7 linked regions of the Homo sapiens genome follow. The protein of the gene in region 3 purifies or fractionates together with the protein of the main gene of each other region. This does not show direct contact. Each region holds a gene or a part of one and is shown on either strand. Other genes may lie near its edges.

Region 1 (3,500 bases), on a different chromosome or scaffold from region 3:
GAGTGCAATAGTAAAAAGTTTAGTTAATAGGTACACTGGGTCAGATGCAGTGGCTTACACCTGTAATCCCAACACGTTGAGAGGCCGAGGCAGATGGATCGCTTGAGCCCAGGAGTTTGTGACCAGCCTGGGCAACATGGCAAAACCCTGTTGATACAAAAAAGAGAAAAATTAGCCGGGCATGGCGGTGCGTGCCTGTAGTCCCAGCTACTAGGGAGACTAAGGTGGGAGAGTCGCTTGAGCCTGGGAGGTTGAGGCTGCAGTGAGCTGTGATACTACAACCTGAGCATCAGAGTGAGACCGTGTCTTAAAACAAACAAACAAAAAACATAGGTACAGTGATGTTAAGGCAGTGTGAATTAACGTTGCATATACTTAGCTCTGTAATGAACAGTGAGTTTATTAAATAGCCAATTAACCCAACTATTCTAAAGCAGGTACTACAGATTGAAGCTTTGAAGTTCTATGACTTTGACTTTTATTAAGGAAATGCAGAGCTGAGGCTAACATCTCTTTTTTTTTTTTTTTTTTTTTTTTTGAGACAGAGTCTCACACTGTTACCCAGGCTGGAGTGCAGTGGCATGATCTCGGCTCACTGCAACTTCGGATTCCCGGGTTCAAGTGATTCTCCTGCCTGAGCCTCCCGAGTAGCTGGGACTAACCCAACTATTCTAAAGAAAGTACTACAGATTGAACCTTTGAAGTTCTACAGCTTTTACTAAGGAAATGCAGAGCTCTAACATCTCTATTTTTTTTGTTTTTTTTTTAAATTGTTGTTGTTTGTTTTTTGAGATGGAGTCTCACTCTTCACCCAGGCTTGGAGTGCAGTGGCATGATCTCAGGTCACTGCAACCTCCGCCTCCCAGGTTCAAGTGATTCTTCTCCCTCAGCCTCCTGAGTAGCTGAGACTACAGGTGTACACCACAGCGCCTGGCTAACTTTTGTGTTTTTAGTAGAGATGGGGTTTCACCATGTTGGCCAGGCTGGTCTCGGACTCCTGACCTCAGGTGATCCCTGCCTCAGCCTACCAAAGTGCTGGGATTACAGGCATGAGCCACTGTACCCAGCCCTAACGTCTCTTAATATTTATCCCAAATAACTGGGTTTTAAGTGTTCTTCACACATAATGAATGTAGTCATAAGTACTACCAGATGTCTTTGTTCATTCAACTTTTATTATTATTATTATTATTATTGAGCCAAGGTCTTACTCTGTCACCCAGACTGGAGTGCCGTGGTGCAATTCTAGCTCACTGTAGCCTGGAACTCCTGGACACTGGCAGTCCTCCCATCTCAGTCTTCCAAGTAGCTGGGACTACGGGCATGTGCCACAGTGACCAGCTAATTTTTTATCTTTTGTGTGTGTGGGTTTTTTCTTTCTTTTTTTTTTTTTTTTTTTCTTTTTTTTGAGAAGGAGTCTTGCTCTGTCGCCCAGGCTGGAGTGCAGTGGCACAATCTCGGCTCACTGCAATCTCCGCCTCCCAGGTTCAAGTGATTCTTCTGCCTCAGCCTCCCAAGTATCTGGGATTACAGGCGCGCACCACCACACCCGGCTAATTTTTGTATTTTTAGTAGAGACGGGGTTTCACCATACTGGCCAGGCTGGTCTCGAACTCCTGACCTTGTGATCTATCCGCCTCGGCCTCCCAAAGTGCTGAGATACAGGCGTGAGCCACCATGCCTGGCCCTTTTGTGTTTTTTTTTAAATTATTATTTTTTTTTCTTGAGGCAGGCTCTGCTCTGTCACCTAGGCTGGAATGCAGTGGCTCGATTTCAGGTTACTGCATCCAAAACCTTCTGGGCTCAAGCAGTCCTCCCAGTCTCAGCTTCCCAAGTAGCTGGGACTACAGGCGCATGCCACCATTCCCAGCTGATTTTTAATTTTTTTTTTTTAGAGACAACGTCTGTATTGCCCAGGCTGGTCTTGAACTCCTGGGCTCGAGTGAACCTCCTACCTTAGCCTCCCAAAGTGCTGGGATTACAGGTGTGAGCCACCACACCTGGCCTGTTTTTAAATTTTAATTTATTTACTTTTGGTAAAGACCAAGTCTAATGTTGACTAGGCTAGTTTTGAATTTCTAGCTTCAAGGGATCCTCCCACCTCTGCCTCCCAAAGTGCTGGGGTTGCAGGCATGAGCTACTACACCAAATGGGAAAGTATTTTTTTAAAGATGCCTATGAACGGAGACTCCTGAAGGTTGTTGACTTCACGGTAGCATTTTCAGCCTAGCTAGTGTTATCGTGGGTTAAGAAAGATAAATTCATTAGCAATATAACTTTACTAAGGATAACCTGATTGTGATATTGTTTTATTTCCATATCATATTTGCATGTAAAAATACCAGCAGATTTGCATAAGGCTTTTTATCATTAAGAAAAATGGGCCGGGTGCGGTGGGTCACGCCTGCCATCCCAGCACTTTGGGAGGCTGAGGCGGGCAGATCATCTGAGATCAGGAGCTCGAGACCAGCCTGACCAACATGGTGAAACCCCATCTCTACTAAAAATACAAAATTAGCTGGGCATGGTGGCGCATGCCTGTAATCCCAGCTACTCAGGAAGGTGAGGCAGGAGAATCGCTTGAACCAAGGAGGCGGAGGTTGCAGCGAGCTGAGATCGTGCCACCGCACTCCAGCCTGGGCAACAGAGCAAGACTCCGTCTCAAAAAAAGAAAAAAAAAATTTAATATTAATGGATATTCTGGTTCCCTAAGTATGAGTGTGTTACACTGCACTGAATTCTTTCAGCTGACTGAAAGATTTCCTTGCAGCTGACTGACAATTGACAAGTCTGGTATTGTTCTTGGTGTTCCCATAAAAATATTTTCCCGATAAGTGTGAATGCATCCTCTTTGTTTCAATCTTCCGGATTTATCCTAGTTGTTGTAGGTTGGGACTGTTACTTGCCAAGTTGAAAGCTCTTCAATTCTTAGACAAGGTTAGACCTTAATGTAGAAGTTGCATGACTGTCATTCCCTACTCATTGTTAATAGTTCATTAGCACAGAGATCTAGATACTTAAGTGGTCTTTTTTTTTTATATTGAGGAATTTTTGTATAAAATGTCATTGAGTCTCAGATGAGATTTTTGGGGAAGAGGGGGTGTTAGTGATCAGGTAAACTTGGGTGACTGCATGGGTTTTTATCTTTGAATATTTAATTATATTCTTCTGTACTAGTTTTCCTTACATTAAAAATATGACAGTCTTAGAAGCATACTTTTATTCTCCTAGGTGATGGTCTAAATTTGCTTCTGTGGGTCTGGAAGCTATTAGAATGTCATGTTATTCAGCAGTATTTTTCCCCTTGTGTTTTCCCTTAATAGAAGGAAAAAAAAAGTACTTTAATAGAGATAGAGTTTAAGATTACAGTTAATTTTCCTGACTCTTTCGAGAACAGTAACAACAAAAGCCTTCTCTTGGTAAACTGATCTTTGACTAACTGTTCCTTAGTCTCTTTATTCTATCCTTCTAAGTTCCTGATGGTGGCAGGAGGGGATGGG
Region 2 (3,500 bases), on a different chromosome or scaffold from region 3:
CTACTGTTTTAAGCCACGAAGCTTGTGGTACTTCAGTATGGAGCCCTAGCAAACTAACACAAACCCTTTCATCTCGTCCACTAGGTTATGCTAGAGCACATCCCAGACAGCAAAATCATTTCATCTGTAAAAACATCAAAACCGCTCTTAGCACATCCATCAAAATTAACACCACTGCTTGCAGTTACTTTTGCCCCTAGAATACCTACACTAATAAGTCAAACTGCTGCAATGTAAAGGCAATTCAAATAATTCTTTTTGTGGCTAAGCCACCAACCTGGAACACAATTAGGGTTGTTTCATTCTGCTTTCAATATGTAGGGGGTACTTTCTCATTTTTGTTTAATTTTGTCTTATAATTTTATAAACCATTTTTATAGTTCTGAAGTCAAAATTTTGAGACCTCAAAAAGTCATAGATTCTACCCCTGTTCCATCCTTTTTCTTCCTTCACCTTAGAGATAACCATTTTTATTGATCTCCTTTTTTTTCTTTTGCTTTTATCTTTCTAAAAAAAATAATTGCACTGCTTAATGACTGGGATATGTTCTGAGATACGCGTTGTTGGCGATGTTGTGCAGTCATCAGAGTGTGTTACACAAATCTAGATGGTATAGGCTACTACACACCTAGGCTATACCCCTATACAGCATGTTACTTAGCTGAATACTGTAGGCTACTGTAACACAATTGTAAGTATTTGTGCATCTCAACATATTAAAACATAGAAAAGGGACAGGAAAAATGCAGTATTATCATCTATGGGAGCATCATCATATATGTAGGCTATCATTGACTGAAACATTATGTGCTCCATGACAGTGTAAGTAAATACACACACACTTTTCTTGGTATTCCCACCCACCTTTCTTAGATAACAGTACTAACTGTGCTGTTCTGCACTTATTCTCACATTCTGGAGATCACTCCATAGTAGAAGTTACAGAGGTCCTCCTCATTCCACTTTACAGCTGTGTGGACGTACCACAGTTTATCATCCTTGGAGTGCCTTAGCTTTAGTTCTAGGCCCCCAGTTCTTCTCACTCTGCATCTTTCCACAGGCAACTTCAATCATAGACTCATCCTCTAAGCAAGATATCTCCCATACTCGACTCCCCCTTACAGACGACCTACTCAAAAGAGCAGTTCAGATGCCTCAAAGTCAACACACCTAAAACCACACTCACGATTCTTCCCTCCGACCTGGTCAACCCCTTGTCTCTGTAAATGGCACCACCTCTGAATCAAAACCTTAAGAGTTATCCTTAATAATTCTCCCTCCCTCAGCCCCCTCATCTAATCAATTACCAAGACCTGTTTATTCTGCCATCTAAATCTGCCTCACATTCGTCTACTTTTCCCCATCTACTGCTACCATTCCATCATGAGCCTTGCCTCCAATGTCACCTGCCTCTCCTGATTTTCCTTACAGTACGCTTTTACCTGTCTTCCCTATGGGTTCATTTCTCTCTGCCTGGCTTCCTGAAATGCTGGAGTTCCTCAAGATTCAGTCTTAGGCTCTTTCTTACTCTTACTGTAATGTGAACACTCTCCCTAGGCCAACTCATCCTCTCCCATTATTTCAATCACCCTATATTGATCAGGTTCTCCCAAATTTACATTTCAAGCTCAGTCTACATTTTGAGGTACTGTACTCCGAAATCAACACTACTTGTCATCGCCACTGGGATAACTAGGTCAACCAAAAACAGCTCAATTAATCTAAAACCAAATTTACATCATCTCCAAATCTGATCTCCTTCTAGTGTTCCTATCTCACTGAATGACATCACCAACCGTCACAGAACAAACCAGAAACCAAGCAAGCATCCCTGACAACCCCATCTCCCTTTTGTTTGCTTTTATTTTCTTTGTTACCCCATCTCCTCTATCTTCCATGTCTAACAGTCCTGCTGGCTGTATCTCCTGGACATCCCTGGGACTGGTTCACTTCTTTCTGTCTCCAACACCACTAACCTAGTCCAAGTCACTCGTGCATTCATTATACAACTGGACGCATACCCTGGCCAGGGACTGTTTTAGGTTCTTGGAAAACAGGAGTGAATGAAACAGGCAACCCCTCCCACAGCAGCTTACAATGCAGAGGCAGAGACAGATCATGAAGAAACAGATCTATTACACAGCGCTAAGCACGAGGAGGGAAAATAAAGCACGGTGAGGAGATGGCGTGGGGGCTGCAGGGCTGCGTGTCAGATGATCTGTGCCTGTGTGAGCCGAAGCCTGTGCAGCACAAGGAAGTGAGCGAGCCACATGGACGCATGACCGCCACGAAGAACAGTCCCAGACAGAAAAAGCAGGGCAGAGGCCCTGAGTGGGGGCCTGCTTGGCGCCCCCCATGACACACTGCAGGGCGGCCAAGGGTGATCAGAGGCCTCGAATGAAGGGCAGAGTGGAAGGAGCTGAGAGTGAAGAGGTAGCCAGGGCCAGACCACGTAGTGTATTTCTCCCAAAGGAGAGTTAAAAAGATAAACAAGTGTGGTTCCCATATAAAAAAATCTCACCTTTCTTCAGGGAGGAGAAAGCTCTCCCCAGCACAGGGGCTGTGGGGACCGAGGCTGCCTGCCCTGCAGCTCCTTGCTGGGCCCATGGCATAAGGGGCCATCACTGAGCCCTCTGGACCTGACAAGCCCTGCACTGTGGCCGTCAGGTTCTCCACATGGGCTGGCGGCTGCAGAAAGCAGCCTAGGCCTGCCCTGGGCTACTTACGGCTCCTCAGAACCTGTGCCTGGCTCTCAAGCACCAACCAAACCCTGTGACAGGGCCCGTGGCTCTCTCTCGGGTGCTCCACCTTCTCCTCGCTGGCTTTGCTTCTCTGGACCTTCATGAACACCTTTCTTTAGGCCTGAGCAATTCTTCAGTCCTTTGATCCCAGGCCCTTCCACAGGGAAGCCTTTGCTGACGCCACCTGCCTGCTCTGCACTCTCACAGCACCGAGTGTCTTTCCCACGTGGTCCTCACTGGAATGTGTCCTTCTGTGCCTTGTGTGCAATGAGTGTGTTCACCTTGTCCCCCACTAGATCGTGCACTCCAGAAGCAGGAGACCTGTGTCCCTTTCTGCCCAATGCTATACAAAGCTGTGGGCGAGGGTTCAACCTTGATCCCCCAGAGCCAGAGCCCCCCCAGTTCAACCACTCTCAGTCCCCCACTGCCACGATGGCCCCTCCCCGTTTCTCTACTCTGATTACTTCTCGGGCTCTGTCAGATTCCTCCTGCTTAAGCACCTCGCAAATGCTGTTTCCTGAAATTCGGGCCTCCACTTGGCCCCCTCACCTGGCCAGCTCCAAGCTTCTAATGCCCATCATGCTAATGGGCTCCCTGACCTCCCTTGAGTCTCGGCCCTGTCACTTACACACCTGCCCACCAGGGTTCCCCACCTGACGACTTCACTCACATCTCAAGTGAAATCCATCCCACACCCAACTGCTCCTGTACCCTGATCACGTGGGCGCCGCCTCCTCCCTCACGAACTCACGGCAAGTG
Region 3 (3,500 bases):
ATTTAAAAGATAAAAGGACTATGCTATACTTCTCGATTTGTAATCTTTAAAAATAAAGTGCCAAAGATGTGACCATACCCCTGCACTAATTTTGAAATGCTAGTCTAAATTTCCTGCCAATATTTGGAGGTGGGGAGAATCTTGCTGGTAGTGTTCAGGAACTCAGTGCCTTAGAGGGTACTGACAACACTGTGTCAGTAAACTTCTCTTCAGCAGTCGCCTTTCCAGAGGCCATGTGACACTTGAGAACATGATTCCCAAATATGTTTTCTGGTAATGGTGCTTTGATTTTTGATTTTGTTAACTTTCAAGTTAAATCCTGAATGGACAAACTTCATGACTGGACACAATGAAGTGAAAATCCTAACATCAGAGAGGCTCTGGATGAAAGCTCAAAGCTACTATCAACAGAATCAAATTAGAGGTTATCAGCCACAGAAAACATGAACATAACCCTGGCATTGGTCTCTACCTGACAATGCTGCCAAAATGTAAATAAGTGCCAACTGTGTAATATCACGAATGTAGACTTTTTTTTTTTTTTTTTTTGAGATGGAGTTTCGCTCTTCTTGCTCAGGCTGGAGTGCAATGGTGTGGTCTTGACTCACTGCAACCTCTGCCTCCCAGGTTCAAGCGATTCTCCTTCCTCAGCCTCCCAAGTAGCTGGGATTACAGGCACCTGCCACCATGCCCAGCTAACTTTGTATTTTTAGTAGAGACAGGGTTTCACCATGTTGGTCAGGCTGGTCTCAAACTCCTGACCTCAGGTGATCCATCTGCCTCAGCCTCCCAAATTGTTAGAATTTGGTGCCTGGCCCCCTTTTCCAAAAATCATAAAAAATGTCTACATTAGGCCGGGTGTGGTGGCTCACGCATGTAATCCCACCACTTTGGGAGGCTGGGGCAGGTGGATTACTTGAGTCCAGGAGTTTGAGACCAGCCTGGGCAACATGGCGAAACCCTGTCTCTACAAAAATACAAAAATTAGCTGGGCGTGGTGGCACCCACCTGTAGTCCCAGCTACTGGGGAGGCTGAGGTGGGAGAATCGCTTCAGCCTGGGAGGTGGAGGTTGCAGCGGAGCCACACTTGTGCCAATCACTCCAGCCTGGGTGACAGAGTGAGACCCCATCTCAAAAAAAAAAAAAAAAAAAACATAAATAATTCAGCTACTGTATTTAGGCTGATATTGTCAGTGGCTTAACTGGTTGTTTGCAATTTTTTTTATTTTATGAATAAAAATGTACATATTCACTTTTCCCTCACAAATGCTAGTGTTATTCATACCTACACCAAAGGCAACAAAGATCATGAATGACATCTTTCAATTCATATCTTTCTTAGCTGTTAAGAAATTTTAAGCATTTAAAGTTATCTACCAACTTTTCAATAAACTATTGAGAAAAATAAGAAAAGTCTACTATATTTAAACAATTCCAAGAGTTTACTGGCATCAAATTTTATAAGCTTAAATTTTCTGAAACATTTGGGTCATGTCCTCTTTATTACAATACATGTCCATGTATTGTGCCCCAATTTAGCAGTGTGCCTGGCACAAAGTTTGTGACCTCATGACCAAGTGGCCTTATTCTATTTCACATTTTACTTGAGTTCTCCTGGGAAGTTAACATCTTCTTCTAAACAGATACACAGCTCTCAGCCCTATGAGAGCAGAAATCTTATCTTATTCAATCTGTCCCAAGCATCTGGAAAGTCCCTGGCCCACATACTAGGCACTCAGTAAGTATTTGGTTGTTCCAGTTAACATATGAGATGGTTAATCTGATTATAGTGAAATTCAGAGGGAATGCTAAGTTTAGATTGCTTAACTAAAAGTAAAATAAAAATGAATTTAGCAAACTGTAGTAAGACAGATTTAACTAAAAATCATTTCTCAGAAAACTAGTTTCAAAGAGTAGACGCTAAACAGGTTTCTTTGCTGCTGGAACCCTGTAGGACTATTCTAATCCTAAACTAAAATCTTTTGTAAATCTTCAAGTATGTAGCATTTCCCAAATCGATGTGAACACAATTTATTTTTTTTAACCAAGCATCCAGAGGAAACTGATACTGAAGAACACACTCCGGGGAATGCTGCATGATACTATATTAGGCCACACAATATTAACACTAAAGAACATTAAATCAGTTTCCATGAAAAACCTGAAATGTTCTAATTTCCTAAAAAGCATACTGATTTGTATATGTTAATATTCTACCTAAAATTAAGATAAGAAAACATTTAATTGAAATCTGGTCTTCTCTAGGACTAAAAAACCTTAAGCATACATGAAAGAAAAAAAAATCAGACTTGAAGATCTACACACAAAATATCTTTTATTCTGTGGAATCAAAGCTCCACACAAGTACTTTATAAGATCCATTATTTTTTTTTTTTTTGAGACAGAGTCCTACTCCATTGCCCAGGGTGGAGTGCAGTGGGGCAATCTTGGCTCACTGCAACCTCCATCTCCTGGGTTCAAGCAATTATCCTGCCTCAGCCTCCCGAGTAGCTGGAACTACAGGTGCGCGCCCCCATGCCCGGCTAATTTTGTATTTTTAGTAGAGATGGGGTTTCACTGTATTAGCCAGGCTAGTCTCGAACTGACCTCGTGATCCACCTGCCTCGGCCTCCCAAAGTGCTGGGATTACAGGTGTGAGCCACCATGCCCAGCCCTAATGTAGTATTTTTAAATGATATGATTATACAACAACTTTCTTTAAAATCTAAGTTCACAAAAATTTGTCAGTACATCATCTGTTTTATCTCTATTGACTATAATTACCAGTTGTAAGAACAATTCTAACCATATTAATACCTGACAGAACGTTGAGGCCTGATTATAACTGGATATTGGGTAGCATCCAGTTAAAGTATCAGTAGAGCTTGGATGTATCAAAGAAAATATTTTATTCAAGTTCCCAAAACAAACTTGAGGAGTTATGCTGGGTTTGAATTGAAGAAAAAAGGCCAAGTTAAAATAGGAAAACAAATGGTTTTCATTTGGTGGCAGTTGAAATCAAAGTATACATGTGTATACATTCTAATCCGTCATCTATCCCATGTGGCATTTTCCAAGGTTTTAAGAGTCTACCAGGCCAAACCCTTTGCCACTTTCACTGCTTTTGCTTTGCTTTTCCCCTTTCTTTTCTCTCGCTTTGCCTTCAGCCTTTTTCTTTGCCTTTGGTTCATCCATATTGGGTACTGTCCATGCTGGTCTAGAAGAGTCTTTTTGTTTCTCTTAATATCAGTCTCCATTTTCATGTCATCTGCATAAAAAGATGGAAAAACTATTAACACCATGTATGAAAAAAACCACCCTGTGAAAGCATATTAATGCACTGAGAACATCAGAACATTAGAACTGAAGGTAGACCGAAAATAGAGAAGAAAAAAACTTTATAAAGAATGTTGGCATGACTGTCCTTCCTTAGAATAGTAATGTTAAATAGGAAACATTTAGGATGCATGGCTCTGAGTTAGTACATTAGTAGATATATG
Region 4 (3,500 bases), about 48 Mb from region 3:
GAATACAGCCCGGAGTTTAGAGAATGCATCACCGTGGTCTGGGATAACTCAGGCAGGCTCCCTCCAGGGCTGAAGCTGAACTGGCAGGGTGAGTGAGATTTGGGTTCAGGCCTGGTGTTGGCTTGGCTTATGCTGCCGCCTCAGGTGACAGGGCAGGTGTTGGGTGCTGTCATCTGCCACCTTGATTGTGTTTTTTGGAAGGCAGCAGAGAAGAGTTTGGAGTCACCAGCAAGGAGTTGCTGGCAAGTTCTAGGCCTCCCCCTGGAGCCCTGACTCCTCTTCATTGCAGGTGGGCGCTACATCGAGGTGTTCAGGGAAAAGAACGTCCCCACCACCAAGGGTGCACCAAAGAATACCACCAAATCCTGGCAAGGCCGGATACTCGGGGAGAACGAAGAGGAGGAGGACCTGGCCGAATCCGGAAGGCTCTTTGTACGGAACCTGCCCTACACCAGCACCGAGGAGGATCTGGAGAAGCTCTTCTCCAAATATGGTAGGGGTGTGGCCTCCGGGCCGTGGATAGCCCAGCGGCTATGGGAGCCGGGCTCTCACTCTGACGTCCTGGGTTCAAGTCCCAGTGTGCACACGACTCCACATCTCTTGCCTCAGTTTTCTCATCTGTAAAATGGGACCAAGTACCCCTGAGCTGCTGTGAGGATTCAGTGACATGATGAATGCAGGGATTCGCAGGGCAGGAAGTAAAAGGTATTAATAGCATCACTGGCATCCTTTGCTGTCTGAACTCTCTAACTTCTCCAAATTCAGAATTGAAGCAATTCGGATGACTTTTTTGAGATACTCCCTTGCTGTCCAAAGTCATGCCACTCGGTATTGGAATTGAGTAACTGTACAGGTTTCACCTGATGAATATACCTACACGGCGTTCCTCCGTATCTGAACTCTTAATTATGTAAAGTCTTCTTATCCAAGCTGAGCACCAAATAGATTTGATAGTGTCAAGGTTAGTGTTGTTGTTGCTGTTATTTCTCAGGCCATGGGCTTGAGGGCCTGTAGTCCAGCTTGGTCACAACAGGCTGTGTTTGTTTGTGGAGTTACCATTGTTGAAGGGCAGGAAGGGAGGGTTCAGGATGAGGGGAGGTCTTGATACCTTTGAGATCCCCGCAGTGTCTCCCCATGTCTATTCAGAGGCCAGCTGTAGGTTGTGGAGGATTGGAGATGTAGGTTGAACACCTGATGTGGGCCCCGTTGTCAGGGTAAGGATGCCCTGAGTGGAGCATGCCATCAGGAAAATTGACCTGACCTCCAAGCCTGGGGCCTGCCCCAGTGGAACTGTGTGTTCCATTCACCAGTCTGCTCACCATATCCTTCACACAGGCTGGCATCCCGGCTTACACCTCATGGGTGGGCTGAGGGGGAGAAGCATTTGTCGATATATTGCAAATGTCCATTTGGGAAGGAAAGACCCAGAGAGGGGACGCGGTCACACCCTGGCATTCAGAGTTGAAACCAATGCAGAAAGGGTGTGCTTTAATTTGAGCATGATGCTAATATCATCATGGAAGACACTTCTTTGGCACTAACTCTAGCAGGCACTGTTTAGTGCACTATGCACGCATGAACGCATTTAGCCCATGAGCTAGGTACTGTTGTGCTGTTTTACAGATGAAAAGACTGAGGCATGGGGAGGCTTAGTGATTTGCTCAAGGCAAGCTTCATGTGTAATAGGTGGTGGTGCTGGGCTCCAGCCCAGGTATTGTTGCTGTTAGGATAGACACACGTAGGGGACTGGGAAATGACACCCATGACCTGTGAGGTTGGCTCACAGCTGGTGCTCACCACATTCTTCCCTGGGGCCAAGTGGCTGCGGCCTACCAGAGACCGACACTTCTCCTGTCCTCAGGTCCCCTGTCTGAGCTCCACTACCCCATCGACAGCCTGACCAAGAAACCCAAGGGTTTTGCATTCATCACCTTCATGTTCCCTGAGCACGCTGTGAAGGCCTACTCGGAGGTGGACGGGCAGGTATTCCAGGTGAGGCCCCGTCCTGGGCTGGCCAGGAGGCTGTGGGGCTCACATGGTCGGGAAAGGCTGGTGTGTGTGTGTGTGTATGTGTGTGGACACGGGCGTCCACTTTGTGGGCCTAAGAAAATGTGCAATGGCATGCTAAGTCACTGCCTCACTCAAGCCACTGGAGAGTAAGAAGTCGTGTGAGGGCACGGTCTGATCTGTTCTGGTCACTGATCTGTGGCACCTACACCTCTGTCTGGCACTTAGCAGGCACTGAAAAAATACTCCTTGAATGGATGAATTTGCTCTCCATCTCTATAGATACCACCTTAGAAGAGGAGTAAGAAGAAAAGAATTTTGACAGGGACCTATTAAAATGGCCACAGTGGAATAAAAGAAACTTCTCTTTTCCCAGTGTTACCAAGTAATATACTTAGCATACATCCTCAAGCCCCAGGCTGCCTCATCATCACCCTTTTTCCTTTTCTCATTCATTCATTGATTTATTCATGATTTCTTGATCCCCTTGTTGCCATCAGGCCAGACCTGGCCCCACCGGCATGGACCTCACATTCTTACTCACTGGTGCAGGGACAGGATGCGATGCAGGCTTGAGAGGCGGGGAGAGGGCTGCGGGTGCGGGGTTATACACTGATCGAAGTTTTGTGTGTGTAGCTGTGTCAGGTGGCCCCCTCACGACATCAGGATCCTGTGTCAGGTGGGAAGAGAGTGGCCACGTTCTACCTGACCTCCCTCCCACCCTCTGGTCAGGGTTTCAGTGCTGGGTCCAGCTTACTCGTGGCAGAAGCCAACATCCTTCGGCAGGAAGCAGGGCTTACAGGCAAGGCTTCTGTTTACTCCCTTCCCGTCATTCCCATCCAGGGCAGGATGCTCCACGTGTTACCATCTACCATCAAGAAGGAAGCCAGCGAGGATGCCAGTGCCCTGGGATCGTCGTCCTACAAGAAGAAGAAGGAGGCCCAGGACAAAGCCAACAGTGCCAGGTCCTCAGTGCCCCTGAAACCACTGAGCTCCAACCCCAACCCTCTGCCACCCTCACCCTGCCCTTTCTAAGCCACCTGGGTCTTCTGACTCCTGATGGGTTTAGTTCATACCTTACCGAGCTTCAGTTTTCTCATCTGTAAAATGGGAGAATAATAGTAGTGCCTTACTTTTATGGTGCTGTAAGGTTTAAATGAGTGAATGTATGTGAAGTTCTTAGTCCCTGACACAGATGAAGCACTGTTAGGGATGGTTCCTGTCATCATCCGTCTTGTTGTCTTCAGGCCCTGTATACGTAGCCCATGATAGGGAAATTGGGGGCATGTAGATAGGCAGGCCTAGGAGCCCATTTCTTACAGGATTCGTGTCTGAGAACGAGTTCCCCTCATCCAGCTGCGGTCTGATCTCCCTGTTCTGCCTCTGCCTCTTAGCTCTCACAACTGGAACACACTATTCATGGGGCCGAATGCCGTGGCCGATGCCATCGCACAGAAGTACAACGCCACCAAGAGTCAAGTGTTTGACCACGT
Region 5 (3,500 bases), on a different chromosome or scaffold from region 3:
GTTTCCCCTCCTCTTCTGTTTTTGTTTTTCATTGCGGTAGCTAAACAGCCTTCATTTGCCATGAATAAGCAACCTAACTTTAAAAGCCTTTATCCACTTGTTCGATTTAACAGAGTTTCTTTATCTCCTTTCACATACATCTCAGCAGGGAAATTCTAATAGAAGTGTTCTTCATTCATGCCGGTGCTACATTTAAATGCAGCTGCAAGTTAACTGCCTCTACTCAGTGACCTCAGCAAGTGATGTCCCTAGTAATAGTGGCCCAAGAAATACTGGCCATAATGAATGAAGATAACACCTTTAAATATTTTTTAAGTCCTTGGGCTTGGTCAGTTAATACAAATGAGTTGTTCAGTAATGCTAGTCACAAAAGAGAATTGATTCTGTGTTCTAAATGTAAATCTCTGTGTGCTTTAATGACACAATTTCAGAACTAGCTCCACATTTTCCATGAAGTACGCTGGGAAAAATAGTAGTTAAGTATGTATTCTTCACCATTGAAATTCTAGGCATACTTTATTTTAAGAATGTAGATATCAATTCATTTTTTTGTTGTTGTTTATAATTTTATAGGACATTGTGCTCACTTTGGCAGCACATATACTATAATTTTATAGGAAATTATCAGTTCCTTGCTTAGCATAGTAAATGGCAAATATGGAAGAAAGGTCCTGTGGTACTTTGTTTTGAGAATGCAGATATTGATTCTTTTTTTTTGTTTATAATTTTATAGGAAATTATCAGTTCATTGCCTAGCATAGTAAATGACAAATATGGAAGGAAGGTCCTATTGTACTTACTAAGCCCCAGAGATCCTGCACATACAGTACGAGAAATCATTGAAGTTCTGCAAAAAGGAGATGGAAATGCACACAGGTAAAACCAAGTAGAATGGCTTGACTTCTTTATTCCTCTGTTAATGTTGAGTAGTGCATTCTTCCAGAAGTCCACTTACCCATCCATACCCTCTCTAAAACTGCTGAAAAGGTGAATTCCATTTTCAAGCCTATATTTTTGACAGATTCTAAAGTTTTTATCTTGACAAGGAAATAAAAGTGTCGTGCCAAAAGAACACCTGAGCACCTGGCACATAGTAGGCATTCAAGTGCGTGGTTTGGCTTTTATTTTGCTTTATTTTCAAAGCTACCGATACCACATATTTGAGTACCCTAGAGTATGGTGTCCATACAGCAGTGTAAATGTGTTGTTTTCTGGGTATGTTATTTGGTTTTTGGATTTTTTTTTTTTTTTTTTTGGTATTACACAAGTCAGACTCCCTTTATTGAGCCCTTGTTCTGTGCCAGGCACTATTCAGATCGTGGGACACAAACATTTTTAAAAACAGAACACATACTCGTATCACTTATTGTCTACATGCTTAACAGAAAGATAGACAATAATAATAGAGTGCGATACAGTCTGTGATAAGCTCTTAGAGGTTTTTGTGATAATATCACCACATTTCCTTTGCGATTTATCTTACCTTAATACCCCGTTCAACATACTCAACAGTAAGAAAGATACAGAGGTCCGCAGACGGGAGCTCCTAGAATCCATTTCTCCAGCTTTGTTAAGCTACCTGCAAGAACACGCCCAAGAAGTGGTGCTAGATAAGTCTGCGTGTGTGTTGGTGTCTGACATTCTGGGATCTGCCACTGGAGACGTTCAGCCTACCATGAATGCCATCGCCAGCTTGGCAGCAACAGGACTGCATCCTGGTGGCAAGGACGGAGAGGTAATGTGCCATTAAAGCACAGGCAGGAAAGCTGCAAAGGCCACAAAAACTTCGTTTTTGGACGATGTGGGGTGTCAGTAAGAAAGCTGGGGAGGGAGATACCTGTTGAATAAACAACCAAGAACCTCTCACAGCAGCAATTACATTCATCTTTAATTTTCTCTAACCATCTGGGTCAAAGCCTGGTACTTGGGAATGTTTTACAGATGTGAATTTGCTTATGAATGAAATCATTGCCAAGTATTGAGTGCCCAAGGTGCTTCTGACACCTGCGATTGGGGAAGAGAAGTGGGCCATGGATCTTAGAGAAGCCCTGGCTCCTGACCATATTAACAAATGGGAAAGATGAATGTACCTTGAAAGTTTCTCTATAAGGAGACTGAGCCGGTTGCCTCCCATACTTGCTAAGGAGTAGCCCAAATAACTGGGAACGCTTGGTATTGCTCTTGAAGAGGAGTAAGGTTGAGCTGAAAAGATGCTTTCTTGATTCGCTCATCAGATAATCCCCTTCGGTGGTCATGTGTACTTAAACAGCATGCAGCATTGGGTTTTGATGTTTGTGCTATAGTGTTCTGTCCTGTAGGTTTATTTGTGTCTGAGAATGACATATTTCAATCCAAGACGTGATTAGCATTAAGATGAGCCTTGTGCTGCTACTGTTCAGAGCAGATTAAATGAAGCGGAGACTGAAGCGCTGTGCCGTGGCTGTGTTATCTGGCATAACTGTCTTTCAGTCTGGGGATCAGAATAGATCTGTGGTCCCCCCAAGTATGATGGTTGTCCTAGATAAAGACCTCTTAAGCCTGTGGAACTTTAAAAGTGGCTGAGTCCTTATCTGTATGTGGTGGCATAAATAGTATGTATTCATTCAAATGTATTTGTATGAATGAAAACAACTTTTAAAATTAACTGTTCTTGACCCTTCATAGCTTCACATTGCAGAACATCCTGCAGGACATCTAGTTCTGAAGTGGTTAATAGAGCAAGATAAAAAGATGAAAGAAAATGGGAGAGAAGGTAGGCTATGAAATTTGACCTTTTCTTGTATCTCATGTGGAATTCCAGTAATTCCTGGCATCCCTGAACTTTATACCAGCCATTTAAGCTCAAATGAAGTTTGCCAAGTGTCTAGAAATGGTGTCTGTGAATAAGAAATGATTCAGTGGTTGCTGGTAATGCTTTTTCCCCTAGAAATATTTGTGCCTGAGAACTCTTTTAATTTTCTTTTTTCCAAACCCCCCCCGCCAGCCCCCCCCACCGCCCCCTCACTCTCTCTGTTTTCCTTCCTGTGCTGCTGCAGGCTTCTAACCTGGCTTGGTCAATGCCTTAAAATGCCATTCTAATGAGGATGGTGAGAGGGGGTAGGGGGCCCCAATTGTTGAGTATCATTACCTCAGTAGAAAGGCATGACATTTATCTCTATGTTTGAAGAAAGAATAAGCAGAAGAAGATTATCCTCGTAAGAGAGTTTTGGACTAGTGCCTGTTTATTTGGCATTGAAATACATGTGACCAAAGAGTAAGCCAGTCTTTGGCGCTTTCTGGTTTTTTGTAAGCCTTACAGCTGCTCTGTAGAAACTCAGCTCTCTAGAGAAGGACAGCATTAGCATTTGCATGCCATTCCCCTCTCAGTCCTATCTCCAACCAGACCTTCACTTACAAAATCCAAATTCCATCTGGTATTTAAACCACTGGAGAGATTTTTTTCCCCTACTGAGTTAAAACAGTTTGGGCTTTTCATTACAATGTCTGGAAAAAAGTGACAG
Region 6 (2,930 bases), on a different chromosome or scaffold from region 3:
AAAAACACAAAAGAGATGATTCTTGGAGTTCCAACTTGCTAGAAAGTTGGGAATATGAAGGCAGTTTAGAGAGACAGCAGGCAAACCAACAGACACTGCCAAAGGAAATAAAGGTAACCGAAAAGACAATACCCAGTTGGGAAAAAGGCCCTGTAAATAATGAATTTGGGAAAAGTGTCAATGTGAGTTCAAACCTTGTAACACAAGAACCATCTCCAGAAGAGACCTCTACTAAAAGAAGCATCAAACAGAATTCAAACCCAGTTAAAAAAGAGAAATCTTGTAAGTGCAATGAATGTGGGAAAGCCTTTAGTTATTGTTCAGCTCTTATTCGCCATCAGAGAACACATACTGGAGAAAAACCCTACAAATGTAATGAATGTGAAAAAGCCTTCAGCCGGAGTGAAAACCTTATAAACCATCAAAGAATTCATACTGGAGATAAACCATATAAATGTGATCAGTGTGGAAAAGGCTTCATTGAGGGTCCATCTCTTACTCAACATCAAAGAATTCATACTGGAGAAAAACCATATAAATGTGATGAATGTGGGAAAGCCTTTAGTCAGAGGACCCATCTTGTTCAGCATCAGAGAATTCATACTGGCGAGAAGCCATACACTTGTAATGAGTGTGGAAAAGCCTTTAGCCAGAGAGGCCACTTTATGGAACATCAGAAAATTCATACGGGAGAAAAACCTTTTAAATGTGATGAATGTGATAAAACCTTCACCAGGAGCACACACCTTACTCAACATCAAAAAATTCATACTGGAGAAAAAACCTATAAATGTAATGAATGTGGAAAGGCCTTCAACGGGCCCTCAACTTTTATCCGTCATCATATGATTCATACTGGTGAAAAACCGTACGAATGCAATGAATGTGGGAAAGCCTTCAGCCAGCACTCAAACCTCACTCAGCATCAAAAAACTCATACTGGGGAGAAACCCTATGATTGTGCAGAATGTGGAAAATCTTTTAGTTACTGGTCATCCCTTGCTCAACACCTGAAAATTCATACTGGAGAAAAACCTTACAAATGCAATGAATGTGGAAAGGCCTTCAGTTACTGCTCATCCCTTACTCAACATCGGAGAATTCACACGAGAGAAAAGCCCTTTGAATGCAGTGAATGTGGAAAGGCTTTCAGTTATCTCTCAAACCTTAATCAGCATCAGAAAACTCATACTCAAGAGAAAGCTTATGAATGTAAAGAATGTGGGAAAGCTTTTATTCGGAGTTCATCTCTTGCTAAGCATGAAAGAATTCATACTGGAGAGAAACCCTATCAGTGTCATGAATGTGGGAAAACCTTCAGTTATGGTTCATCCCTTATTCAGCATAGGAAGATCCATACTGGAGAACGACCTTACAAGTGTAATGAGTGTGGGAGAGCATTCAACCAGAACATACACCTTACACAGCATAAGAGAATTCATACAGGAGCCAAGCCTTATGAGTGTGCTGAGTGTGGTAAAGCCTTTCGACATTGTTCATCTCTTGCTCAACATCAAAAAACTCACACAGAAGAAAAACCCTACCAGTGTAATAAATGTGAAAAGACCTTTAGCCAGAGCTCCCATCTAACTCAGCATCAACGAATTCACACTGGGGAGAAGCCCTATAAGTGCAATGAATGTGACAAAGCCTTTAGCCGGAGCACTCATCTGACTGAACATCAGAATACTCATACTGGAGAGAAACCTTATAACTGTAATGAATGCAGAAAGACTTTTAGCCAGAGCACATATCTCATTCAGCACCAGAGAATTCATTCAGGAGAGAAGCCTTTTGGATGTAATGATTGTGGAAAATCCTTCAGATATCGCTCTGCTCTCAACAAACATCAGAGACTGCATCCTGGCATATGACAATTCTAGGAACATCATAAATTTAGGGGAGATATTTACTTTAGTTTGTCCTTTTGTTAAGTACTGAAGAATCAGAGTGGATTTAGAAACTGCCTTGAAATCTTTTAAATTTTCACTATCATGTTATGGAATGGAAAGTACATTGGGCTGAACTAATCCAATTGTTATTAAGCCACTCTGTGACATTAGAAAACTCTACTGTTTTAAGCTTTAGTTTCCTTTATGGAATGAAGGATTTGGAGTAGATTATTTCAAAGGTAGTTTGGAGTTTTATAATCAGTTTTGTATATTTACAATATTTTCTTGAATGGGTTTACTATACATCAGCATTTTGCTGTGTTGCATCTAGAATGTGTATGTTTATGCATGTTTTGCCAATAGAATTTGTGCTTCAGTAACTAGATCGGGGATCTAGTATGCTCCTGGTCTAATGCATTTACATTGTTTAGGTAACTGGTTCCTAATAAAAAGAATTATAAAATACCCTCAAATTAACAATTCAATTGCATATAATAGCCTAACTCAGTAAGAATATTAAAACTTACTATTATTCTTCTTCTAGTCTGTTTTTAATATTCTAGGAGTTTACCACAACTATAGAATTCCACTTCTACAACTTAAACTGGTGTTATTTTACCCTGGTTGCATATTGGAGTCACCTGGTGTCTTAATTTGTGCTGTTATGTTAAATTACAATAGACTAGGTATCTTAAACAATAGAAATTTGTTTAAAGCTGGAAGAGGCTGGGAAGTCCAAGATCAAGGTACTAGCAGATCCAGTGTCAGATGAAGGCCCATTTCCGTTTGCAGACACCTCTCTTCTTCTTGTGTTCCTACATGGTGCTAAGCAGAGACAGAGCAACCTCTCATATCTCTTTATAAGACTACTAATCCCATTGGTGAGGGCTCTACCCTTATGACCTAATCACCTCCCAAAGGCCCCCCTCCTAATACCATCACATTGCAGATTAGGCTTTCAACATAGAAATTTGGAGAGAACATATTAAGTCCATAACACCTGGAGAACCCTATAAAATTATCTTGCCAAGGCCCTAC
Region 7 (3,500 bases), on a different chromosome or scaffold from region 3:
TGAGCAGAAAAAAAAAGTAAAAAAAAATACATACTCAGCCGCGTGCAGTGGCTCACACTTATGATCCCAGCACTTTGAGAGGCTGAGGTGGGCAGATCTCGAGGTCAGGAGTTCAAGACCAAACTGACCAACATGATGAAACCCCGCCTCTACTAAAAATACAAAAATTAGCTGGGTGTGGTAGCCACGCACCTGTAATCCCAGCTACTCAGGAGGTTGAGGCAGGAGAATCACTTGAACCTGGGAGGCGGAGGTTGCAGTGAGCTGAGATCACGCCATTGCACTCCAGCCTGAGCGACAGAGCGAGACTCCGTCTCAAAACAAAAAGCAAAAAAAAAAAAAAAAAAAGGTGATGAGTTTTAGATAAATAAAATTTTCCTAAATGTGCCCAACAGTTTGTAATCTTCAACTTTAAAAATGTTTAAATGTGTAAGAAATACAATAAAATGTCCAGGTGCCATAATCTCAGCACTTTGGGAGGCTGAGGTGGGAGTATCACTTGAGGCCAGGAGTTTGAGACTAGCCTGGCCAACATGGTGAGACTCCGTCTCTCCAAAAAAAAAAAAAAAAAAAAAAAAAAGAAATATAATAAAATCCCTTGTGAAAGGTGGTTGACTAAAGTTAATGTAAATCAATTTACTTATAAAAGATAAGTTATCAAGAATAAATTCCAAGTATGGCAGTATTGAAGAAGACATATTAAATAGTAATTTGGGGGCAGGGGAAAAGATATTTTCAAGTTATTTATTTTGCTAGCCAGGAGTTTATTTCTATTAGAATAATAGTGAATCACAACAGAAATTAATTATATGGACCAGGTGCAGTGGCTCACGCCTGTAATCCCAGCACTTTGGGAGGCCAAGGCGGGTGGATTACTTGAGGTCAGGAGTTCAAGACCATCCTGAGCAATATGGTGAAATCCTGTCTCTACTAAAAATTCAGGCCAGGCGCAGTGGCTTACGCCTGTAATCCCAGCACTTTGGGAGGCCAGGGCGGGGGCGGATCACCTGAGGTCAGGAGTTCGAGACCAGTCTGGCCAACATGGCGAAACCCCGTGTCTACTAAAAATACAAAAATTAGGTGGGTGTGGTGGCACAGGCCTGTAATCCCAGCTACTTGGGAGGCTGAGGCAGGAGAATCGCTTGAACCTGGGAGGCAGAGGTTGCAGTGAGCTGAGATCACGCCACTGCTCTCCAGCCTGGGTGACAAAGCGAGACTCTGTCTCAAAAAAAAAAAAAAAGAATTTAAATTGATTGTTTCTAAATGCATTACAGCCTTAGTGAACCAGTTTTTTTCTCTTGCTTGATTTAAATAAGGTGGATATTCACATCATTTTCTGCCTTCTAGTGGAAGTAAAGTATAATACTTGACTGTCTCAAATCATCCTGGAGTATCAGGGATGGAAGGACCACATCTTTCAGGGCAATGCTATTCTGCTTTGTACTTGTTATAAGACCATTGCTTAACCTCCCTGACACCAGTTTTTCTCATTTTAAAAACTGTCTTATGGCCAGGTGCAGTGGCTCACACCTGTGATCCCAGCACTCTGGGAGGCCAGGGTGAGATCACTTGAGTCCAGGAATTTGAGAGACCAGCCTGGGCAACATAGTGAGACCCCCATGTCTACAAAAACTAAAAAAAATTAGCCACGTGTGGTGGCACACACCTGTTCCAGCTACTGGGAGGGAGGGAGAGGGTGGACTGAGGTGTGAGGACTCCTTGAGCCCAGTAGGTCAAGGCTGCAGTGAGCCATGATTGCACCACTGCACTCCAACCTGGGCAACAGAGGAAGACTCTGTCTCACAACAAATAAATAAATAAATTATTAAAATGTAAAAAAAGGTATTCTGTAAATCTTTGTTAACTTTATATCAAGGAATGTGTATGTTAGAACTCTAAATGTTCCTGAACAGTGTTAAAATTGCTCCTCAACTCCCTTTTCTTTAGTCCAAATATATTATAGCGTCCTTCTTTTACTATGTTAGGATTTTTTTTCAAGGACATTTTCTTCATTTTGCTTCCTACAGCTGTCTACAAAATGAATGAAATTTAATAATTTCTAAAAGACTGTGAATTTATTCCAGAATATATTCTACATCAATGTATTTTCAGTATAAATATATAATAAAAAATTCAAGAGAGGCCAGGTGCAGTGGCTCATGCCTGTCATCTCAGCACTTTGGGAGGCTGAGGCAGGTGACTTGAGGTCAGACATGCCTGGCCAACATGGCGAAACCCCATCTCTACTAAAAATACAAAAATTAGCCAGGTATGGTGGCACGTGCCTGTAATCCCAGCTACTTGGGAGGTTGAGGCAGGAGAATCGCTTGAACCCGGGAGACAGAGGTTGCAGTGAGCCAAGCTCGCCCCACTGCACTCCAGCCTGAGTGACAGAGCAAGACTCTGTCTCAGAAACAAACAAACAAAACCAAAAATTGAAGAGGCTCTACATGGTGTTATCATTCTCCAAAGAAAGCTTTTTAAATTTCTTCATCTAGTTCAATGTTACTATCTAGTATCATTTTTCTTCAGTCTAAAGAATATTTAGTATTTCTTTTTTTCCTCTTTCAGCTCACCGAGAAGTACCAGGGCAGTGAATATTTAGTATTTCTTATAGTACACATCTGCTGATAGTGAATTATCTCAGCTTTTGTCTGAAAACATCTTTATTTAAAATTCATTTGTGAGAAATATTTTTGCTGAGGATAGAATTCTATATTGGCAGTGATTTTATTTTTCTCTTTAAAAATGTCATTCCATTGTTTTTCTGATACCCATAGTGAGTTGTCAGTCTTGTGGTTGCTCCTTTGAAAGAAATTTGTCTTTCATTCTCTGGCAAGGTTTTCAGATTTATTTTTATTTTTATTTTTTTTTGAGACAGAGTCTCACTCTGTCACCTGGGCTGGAGTGCAGTGGCACAATCTCGGCTCACTACAACCTCCGCCTCCCAGATTCAAGCGATTCTCCTGCCTCAGCCTCCCGCCACCACACCCAGCTAATTTTTGTATTTTTAGTAGAGGCGGAGTTTCTCCATGTTGGCCAGGCTGGTCTGGAACTCCTGACCTCAGGTGATCCACCTGCCTCAGCCTCCCAAAGTGCTGGGATGACAGGCATGAGCCACCGCACCCGGCCGGTTTTCAGATTTTTTCTTTGACTTTGGTTTTCATCAGTTTCACTGTGATGTGCCCAGTGTAGTTTTCTTTGCCTATGTGGGGTTTATTGAGCTTTTTGAAATTGTGAGTTAATGCTTTTTGTTAGTTTTGTAAAATTCTATGCTATTATCTCTTCAAATATTGCTTCTGCCTTATTCAGTCTTTCCTCTGGCTTGTGTGACTGTATGCTATACATCTGCTGTGTTCTTTTAGGGATTTCTTAAAATTCCTTTTCTCACACTGTATTTCGGTAGGATGTTTTTCTAATGATCTTTTAGTTAACTATTTCTTTTCTTTTTTTTTTTTTTTTGTCTTGGAGGTTTTCTCTTGTTGCCCAGGTTGGGGTGC

What was found.
Region 1: the proteins of LLPH (region 3) and HP1BP3 purify together in Homo sapiens (affinity purification with mass spectrometry; one large-scale study listed by BioGRID and IntAct). This does not show direct contact.
Region 2: the proteins of LLPH (region 3) and ZNF354A purify together in Homo sapiens (affinity purification with mass spectrometry; one large-scale study listed by BioGRID and IntAct). This does not show direct contact.
Region 4: the proteins of LLPH (region 3) and RBM19 purify together in Homo sapiens (affinity purification with mass spectrometry; one large-scale study listed by BioGRID and IntAct). This does not show direct contact.
Region 5: the proteins of LLPH (region 3) and PUM3 purify together in Homo sapiens (affinity purification with mass spectrometry; one large-scale study listed by BioGRID and IntAct). This does not show direct contact.
Region 6: the proteins of LLPH (region 3) and ZNF184 purify together in Homo sapiens (affinity purification with mass spectrometry; one large-scale study listed by BioGRID and IntAct). This does not show direct contact.
Region 7: the proteins of LLPH (region 3) and SRSF12 purify together in Homo sapiens (affinity purification with mass spectrometry; one large-scale study listed by BioGRID and IntAct). This does not show direct contact.

What each region holds. Positions count from the first base shown.
Region 1 is NC_000001.11:20,780,808-20,784,307, reverse strand, and holds part of HP1BP3 (heterochromatin protein 1-binding protein 3), read left to right. Parts: intron 1-3,500. UniProt on the Homo sapiens protein: Component of heterochromatin that maintains heterochromatin integrity during G1/S progression and regulates the duration of G1 phase to critically influence cell proliferative capacity.
Region 2 is NC_000005.10:178,720,660-178,724,159, forward strand, and holds part of ZNF354A (zinc finger protein 354A), read right to left. Parts: intron 1-3,500.
Region 3 is NC_000012.12:66,120,751-66,124,250, forward strand, and holds part of LLPH (protein LLP homolog), read right to left. Parts: intron 3,269-3,500; coding exon 3,090-3,268; 3' UTR 1-3,089. UniProt on the Homo sapiens protein: In hippocampal neurons, regulates dendritic and spine growth and synaptic transmission.
Region 4 is NC_000012.12:113,945,826-113,949,325, reverse strand, and holds part of RBM19 (probable RNA-binding protein 19), read left to right. Parts: intron 1-289; coding exon 290-493; intron 494-1,861; coding exon 1,862-1,992; intron 1,993-2,850; coding exon 2,851-2,972; intron 2,973-3,401; coding exon 3,402-3,498; intron 3,499-3,500. UniProt on the Homo sapiens protein: Plays a role in embryo pre-implantation development.
Region 5 is NC_000009.12:2,809,596-2,813,095, reverse strand, and holds part of PUM3 (pumilio homolog 3), read left to right. Parts: intron 1-733; coding exon 734-876; intron 877-1,512; coding exon 1,513-1,735; intron 1,736-2,664; coding exon 2,665-2,752; intron 2,753-3,500. UniProt on the Homo sapiens protein: Inhibits the poly(ADP-ribosyl)ation activity of PARP1 and the degradation of PARP1 by CASP3 following genotoxic stress. Binds to double-stranded RNA or DNA without sequence specificity. Involved in development of the eye and of primordial germ cells.
Region 6 is NC_000006.12:27,450,247-27,453,176, reverse strand, and holds the end of ZNF184 (zinc finger protein 184), read left to right. Parts: coding exon 1-1,874; 3' UTR 1,875-2,430; downstream 2,431-2,930. UniProt on the Homo sapiens protein: May be involved in transcriptional regulation.
Region 7 is NC_000006.12:89,101,072-89,104,571, reverse strand, and holds part of SRSF12 (serine/arginine-rich splicing factor 12), read left to right. Parts: intron 1-3,500. UniProt on the Homo sapiens protein: Splicing factor that seems to antagonize SR proteins in pre-mRNA splicing regulation.